Linked DNA regions of Homo sapiens. The protein of the gene in region 1 purifies or fractionates together with the protein of each later gene. This does not show direct contact. Each region holds a gene or a part of one and is shown on either strand. Other genes may lie near its edges.

Evidence for each region.
Region 2: the proteins of TMEM47 (region 1) and CLCN7 purify together in Homo sapiens (affinity purification with mass spectrometry; one large-scale study listed by BioGRID and IntAct). This does not show direct contact.

The regions. Positions count from the first base shown.
Region 1 is NC_000023.11:34,633,063-34,636,879, reverse strand, and holds part of TMEM47 (transmembrane protein 47), read left to right. Parts: intron 1-3,817. UniProt on the Homo sapiens protein: Regulates cell junction organization in epithelial cells. May play a role in the transition from adherens junction to tight junction assembly.
Region 2 is NC_000016.10:1,447,581-1,451,194, forward strand, and holds part of CLCN7 (H(+)/Cl(-) exchange transporter 7), read right to left. Parts: intron 3,087-3,614; coding exon 2,917-3,086; intron 1,748-2,916; coding exon 1,696-1,747; intron 1,514-1,695; coding exon 1,386-1,513; intron 1,187-1,385; coding exon 1,101-1,186; intron 905-1,100; coding exon 775-904; intron 135-774; coding exon 75-134; intron 1-74. UniProt on the Homo sapiens protein: Slowly voltage-gated channel mediating the exchange of chloride ions against protons. Functions as antiporter and contributes to the acidification of the lysosome lumen and may be involved in maintaining lysosomal pH.

The DNA.
Region 1 (3,817 bases):
ATCAGTGCAGAATCAGCCTTGATTTTGAATTCAGTTGCCAACTGTGCACTGCAGTTGGAGTCCGTCCTGTAACTCCAGTTACTCCGTTTCTCGGGAGCAACACCTGAAGGCATTTAGTACCTTGAGATGTCATAAAGACCACAAACTGATTGATGCAGCATGACTGCACCATAGCACATAATGAAAGTTGTGCACATTTCCAGTACAGTTGACTACAGCATATTTCTTTTTGTGTAACTGACAGTGATAGGTAATATATGATGTGATTCTGATAACTGGCATCCAGTTCTCACTAAAGACTTGGTGAAATTAGAGGGACTGCCTCTTGCCACGTTCTCTTCTTTTATTGTCTACTTTTGAACTATCCGCAGGTCATTTGTATGTCCCACAGGAATATAGGATGAGTGTTTTCTTTCTTTCCAAGGCCTTTAATACAAATTGCAGAAAATTCTCTTTTATAATTCGATTTTACATACAGAATCCCCATTTATTATGTTATTAAGGATGATTCTTTATGTTATATCTGCAGAAAGCCTCCTATAAGGATTGTTTTTATAGAAAGGTGATGTTTTTTCAGGGTCCTGCAGCTGATTTCCATCTCTGAGCTATCTCTGATTGGAGGCTTGTGTCTTACAGCCCTCATCACCATCCTATAAGTCACAGTGAGATAGCTGGAACCATTTCAAGTCTAGATTTTGGTAGAAAAATCAGTGTCCAGTTTAGATTTCAAACTAAAAGAGAGTTCTTCTATTCAGGATATTTAGATTACATGTTAATTTCCCTGTACCGTTATCAAACTACACTTCGGCTAGAACAATTTACAGTATCACTTCCCAATAATTAATTTCATACTGCTGCCACTAGTAGTTACAAATTAAATTTTAAAAAGAAAAGAAATGGATACCTTCATATTAACCTTCCACTGGCAAATGCTTTTTATTCTCCAAATCATTGTTTCTTTTATGTCAATTTTATATTTAGGGACCAACCTGGCTGGTAGGGCCTATCAACCTTTGCCTTTAAATTATCTCCTAATTTTGTACCTTTTTTTCGTACACCATCATTATTGCCTTAGTCGAGGCCACAACTTTTCCCTAAATGGAACGTCTCATTCCCCAAATTTGGTCTTCCCCTACTTTATTTTGTTTTTCTATGGCAATATCTGACTGTTTTAAGATGTTTATGTGACTCCTTTATTTTGCCTTGTTGAGTATCTAGTTTTTCAGTTCTTTCTTTTAGTCTTTCTTTAGATTCCCTGACTTTTCTTTCCCACTGATGACACCTTAGTCATCACTGCCTACAGGTCCCCACACACTGAATGACCTTCTAGGGGCCTGTCCTTCTCTAATCTCTTCCCCATGTAATCTGTCTTGGATACAACACATGAGGTCTCCTTGTGACATAAACATCTGGTCTTGTCACTTGTCCCTTTGATTTCTTCAGAAGCAAACCCTGAGACGAGAAATCAAGTGCATATACTTTATTTGTAAGGTAGAAGAAGGGATATGATAAAGAGTATGGAAAATGAGACGGGAATGGGAAAGCAGCCATTAAAAGGTTACATTATCAAGCCAGTTGTCACTCGAAGCAGCTGGAGCTTAATCTTCTTGGGGAAACTTTAAAAACCGGTGTAGAACACGCACCTCGAGAATAATCTCATTCAGAGGACTACGGAGCTGGAGTATTAATGCACCAAATTTGGAGCGTCATTGGTTGAGAAATGTCGGTTATAATCAAGGGAGAGCAGTGTTAATTTTCTGGACCTGGCCTGCCCCATAGGCAGCTGAAGAGGCTTTAGTGGCCAGAGGTAACTCAGGCAAAGAAATACAGGTGCTGGCAATTGGAAGTCAGGGTAGCATGTACTGAAGTGGGGAAGATAAAAATATATGGATAGGACACCAACCGCATATACAATTACAATAACCTCGCAGATGGTCTCCCTAGAGAAACAAAAGTTTATTACTTTATGAAACACTATGGTATTATAGTATGAACTAAACAGCCTTGTGCATGCGCCCTTCATTTTACCCATGCAAATTGCTTCTAGTCATACTCTCTTAATAGCTGTAAGCACTATAGAATATGCTTTGTCTTCCTAGACGTCTTTTCTTTCCTCTGCCTCTTCTGACCACCTTTCATCCATCCTTTAAGAACCAATTCAAATGATGTCCCTCTGAAGCCCTCCTTTCTTTCTCTAAGCTGAATCAGTACTTGGCACAATGTTTGAGCTCAGTAAATGTGTGTTGAACATATTATAAACAAACATGCATGCCTCTACTATTGCTGTTGAATGCATTGATTTATAATTACTTGTGTGCCTGTCTCCACCATCAGAGTATGAATCATCAAAGGGCGAGGGCCATGTCTTATCTATCTTATCCCCTTCATCTAGCACGTAGGCACCCAATATATGTTTATCAAAATAGTGAAATGTCCTTCTTAGAAGAAAATATTGAATATTTCAATATCAATGCTTTGAATATTTTAGTGTTGAAAACACTGAAAAATATCCCTTTAAAACTAGAATAAAACACAAGAATTAGTAGGTCTACATTCCCGTCATGCCTCTGATCCACACAATTTCATGGTTAGTAGTTTCATTGCCTGTTTTCAAAAAAGTGCAGGGGGCATAAAATGAACCCCAAATCTCTTAAGATTCTAAAATGTTCCAGAGCTGTACCTATGTTATCTTTGAGGAAGAGCATAGAGAATACCATATCCAATGCCTATTTTGTTTCATTGATTGGTAGTAAAATAGAAATATAGTATAATGGCATTTTCCTGACTTCTGAACTCTTTATGTTTTTTTTTTCTTCCCTCTACAGCATCTATGAAAGGCAAGGAGGCATTTTTACCTACATCTGTGAATTTTATTACATGGAGAAAATTATTTACAAATGCAGAATTATATTTTTCTCAGTTTTGCTATTACATTCATTTTTCTCTGTGATTCCAAAGGGAGTCGAATAATTCAGAGGCATGAAGTGTTTTACAGTAATTTTTATTGAGCTCCAACACAATAAAAGTCTAAGAAAGTTGTTCGGGAGAGTATGCCAGTAGGGCCTAATGGAGTTGTATTTCCATTTTTCCACTAGAGGGAAATTATATCATTATATTATACCATGGAGGCCAAATATTTGCTAAATAAAACACGTTGAAATGAATATTAAAAGCAGCGTAGGTAAACACCTCACTCCAGGGACTAGTCAGTTCACAAAAGAAGCAGTGTAATCATTTTAGAGTAATTCAGATTAGTTATTACTTCTCTGCTCAAACTCTTCTACCAGCTGCCTGTCACACGTAGAATAAAATCTAGACCCCAGATATGGTTCACAGGCTGTCCATGAACCACGAAGGGCCCCTGCTGTTTCTTCCATCATATCTCATGCTTCTCCCTTCCTGCTCTCTGTACTGCAATCACAGCCTTCTGACTTCTGTTCCAGTGCACCAGATATGCTCCTGTGATGGGAGTTTTGCAGTGCCTATGCCTTTCACGTGGGAATGCTCAGTCCCCACTATGTTGTTCTGCACCCCCAATTCATTCAGATCTGTGCTCAATATCTCCTCCTCAGAGCAGCCTTCTCTCACGATTGATCTAAAAGAGCAGCCCTCATCCCTGTGTTCTGTCTGCTTTCTTGCATTTCTTGTCTCTTAGCAATATGTGACATTATATTCTATATTTGTTTACTAATGGACTGACTACCCATGAGAGTAGCAGCTTTGTCTCTTTTGATAGCATAATGCCTTAAACTGTATCGCTTTAGAAACATTCAGATATTTATTGAATGGATGCATTTATTGAATGAGTAAATGAATT
Region 2 (3,614 bases), on another chromosome or scaffold:
GAGCCCTGTGTCAGGCACCCAGGCAGCACCCCCGGGGCCCCCACCCGCCCAATGGCCCGGAGCCTGGCACGCACCTTGTGCTTTAGGAGAACGATGAGCTGGGAGCGCAGGATCAGGCCCTGGAGCCGGGCAGGCTGCAAGACAGGCCCGCGGTCAGGGCCACGGGCCCGAGGGTGGGAGGCTGCGCTGGAATGCTGTGTCGGGCCCCGCTCTGACCCTGTTCCGGCCAGATTTCCCATCTGGGCATGGGCCCCGTGTCGGTGGCTACCTGCTCACACCAGCCTCGCCATGGCATCCCACACGCACAATGCCACGGGACCCAAGGATCGGCGACAGGGTAGCGGGGCCTGACCGCGCACAGCAGAGAGCCAAGGGCCCAGGGATGGTGGCTTTGCTGCAGGGCAGATGCAGCCCCACTGGGTCCCAATAAAAACCAACCTCCAAACACCCAGTGTCCACGTCTAAAAGACACACAGCAGTGGCCGAGCTGTGTGTCCTGTCAGGGCCTCCTGACAAAGTCACGGCCCCCAGTGCCACGGCTCTCAGCCCAGCCTGGGTGCCAACCCCAAGACCCTGCCAGGCCGCAGCCCCCCCCACCAGCCTCAGCGTCCACACAGCCCTCCATGGCTGCACACTCAGCTTCCGGCACTCCTGGAACTGCCAGTGCACCCAAACGTGCAGCTTCCCCATCCTGCAAACCTTGCCGTGTGCTTCCCACCAATGGACTCGACAGAGGTCACATAGGCAGGACCCTGTCTATGGGGTGCCCGGTACCTGGGTGTCATCGGCATGCTCCACCACGGGGAAGCCGTTGTGATTGGACGCCGTGTCGCTCAGCACGTCCACAATGACGCCGACCTTCTCACGCCGCCTCAGGCAGGTCACTGGTGTGCTCATCACCTCCCTGCCGGAGGAGCCCGGCCACACATGCCCGTCACACGCCACCAACTCCCACAGTTACCTCTGCGGGCTGGTGAGGTGTGAAGCCGCTGGACAGGAAACGCGGGGCTGCCTGGAGCCCGCAAGCCGTGCACCCTGCCCCTGTGCAACAAGAGGCCGCTGGACACCCTCCCCACCCACAGGTGTCCTGGGCGCTGTACCTGGCAGTGAGTGAGTGTGAGGTGACCGGGGCCTCCCAGTGCAGGAAGGGCACACTCTGCAGCTGAATGTGCATGTCGTACAGGCCCTGCGGGCGGGGCGGGAACACAGGGCTTGAGGAGTCCACACCCACCCCTGGAGCCCCGAGCCTACCCCTGGGAGCCCAGAGGCCGCCCCCAGAAACCCTGAGCCTACCCCCCGGGACCGGCTGTTTGGAGGCTCACAGGGGCCCCTCCCCTATGGCAGCACCCACGCTCTCAGGGTGAGGCTTCGAGGCCCTGGCGCACCTCAATGAAGACGTCGCCCACGATCTTGGCGGTCATGAGCACCAGCATGATGGGGAAGCCGTAGGTCACGTTGCTGGTGGCCTCCATCATGATGACGGTCAGGCTCAGTGTCATCCGCACAATCCCGCCTGCGGGAGCCATCATGAACCCCAGCACGTCCACCCTCCTGGCTCAGGGTCACGTGGCCACTGCCTTCTCTGCAGCACCCATCCCATCCACCTGCTCCCAGACCCTAGCCCCGCAAGGACAGCCATGGCCCCCTCCAGACCCCGTGGAGCTCCCCACCCATCGGGCAAGAGCTGGGACATACCCAGCTGGGCAGCAGCTCCCATCAGGGCGTATTTGCCGGGGTCCGCCCAGATCTGTGGGAGGTGACACGGAGGAGGTGTCAGTGTGGTGGCAGGCCCAAACCCACCAAGATACACAGACGGAGGAGGCCCTGCCCAGGCCCAGCAGCCCCACAGCCAGGAACAAACCTCGTGGCCGCGTACATACACACAGAACAACCTAGCACAGTACACCCTGCTGCGGAGGCTGCATCCTTGGCCTGAACCAGGCGCTCAGCACCCGAGCAACAGGGGAGTGGCAGGCATGGAGGATGCAGAGGGCACAGTCACCACGCAGCAGCCCAGGCCAACTAGGGAGCACCGTCCAGCATGAGGAGTGAAACCCCGGCACACACGACACAGAGAGCCCCGGGAACATCAGGCTGGGCCACAGAACCCAGGCATGGAGGCTGCAGAAAGCGGGGCACGAGGGTCGGTGGGCACAGGGTTTCCATTCTGGGATGACGGAACATTCTAGAAGTGGTAGTGACGGCCGCACTGCCTCGTGAACGTGAGAAACGCCGCTGAACTGCCCTCTTTAAAACGATGAGTTTTACGGTATTTGAATCATGTTTCAATTTTAAAAACCAAACCAAACCCTTGTGCGGAGGGAGATGGGCAGAGCACACGGGCCTGGGGAGCAGGAGTGGGCGCTTCCTGCCGGGGATGAGAAGCATGGCCGGGGGCTTCCTGCCAGGGCCTCTTACAGGTTTTCAGTCTTATTTAAGCGACTGAAATGAGAAACAGAAGACACATAAGAGAACCCAGTCCCAGCAGAGGCAGGCAGAGAAGGAAGGCCTGCGGGGGCTGAGGTCTGGAGGGCAGTGTATGCCGCTCTGGCCCCCGGCCTCACAGAGAGCAGCCCTGGCCGGACATCCACCCCATGGAGTCTAGAAACAGCTCTGCAGCAGCCCACAATCACCTCTGCTTTTCATCACATTCTCAAGAATAAGGACACGAGCCTCCGCCCCCTACCTTCGCCTGGTCCAGACTCCACACATGGGCTGCGCTGCCACAGTACACGCTGCCACCACAGCAGGACAACGCCCACGGCCCGTGAACCACGCGAGGACAACGCCCACGGCCCGTGAACCACGTGAGGTGCGACACTTTTGTCCTGCCCTGGGACTTCTGCTCCGGCCCGCGATGCCGCAAGACCTGGCTCAGCTGCAGGGCCCCACAGCCTCCCCTCCGGCCCCACTCACCGCCGCCCCCGTGAGGTAGGACAGGGAGATCCCAAAGAGCCGGCCCCAGGCAGCCCCGATGAGCAGGGACGGGATGAAGACCCCGGCAGACACCGTGAGCCCGTAGGTCCAGCAGGCCAGGAAGAAGTAGACCAGCGTGAACAGGCCGAGGGTCAGGGGGTTGTAGGAGCCTAGGAGAGAAGAGGGGCTGACGGGGCCTCCACGACTCCCGCCTCCGCAGGACTGCCCTGCCCCGCTGCCCAGTCTCGGGCCTCACAGTCACCTTCCAGGAGCCCAGCAACCTGAGCTCCCGAGCCCAGCGGTCCCCAGAAGGCTCCCTGTTCTCAGCCTCCCTGGGAAGCAGAAAGGCTAAAAGGATCCCATGGGGAGGCCACAGGGGAAGAGGCTCTGCGGGGCCCTGATGCCAGCAGAAGCAGGAGCCGCGTCCAGCGGGGCGGCCCAGCTGGGTCTAGCAGCGCCAGGTCTACACTCCATGGGTGTGCACCGTGGTGCAGCTCGCAGCCTGGCTCCGGGAAGAGGGTGCCCCCCACAGCCTGGGGTTCCTTTCCTGGAGCAGGCAGCACTGTACTGCGTGCAGGGCGGGTGAGACCGCCAGGGACACAACTGCAGAGGTGAAAGGCCGGCACTCCAAGGTCGCGGTCTGCGCTTCCGTGAAACACTTGTGGTCGAGCGAGGCCAGGCCGTGGTCTTGGTGTGGG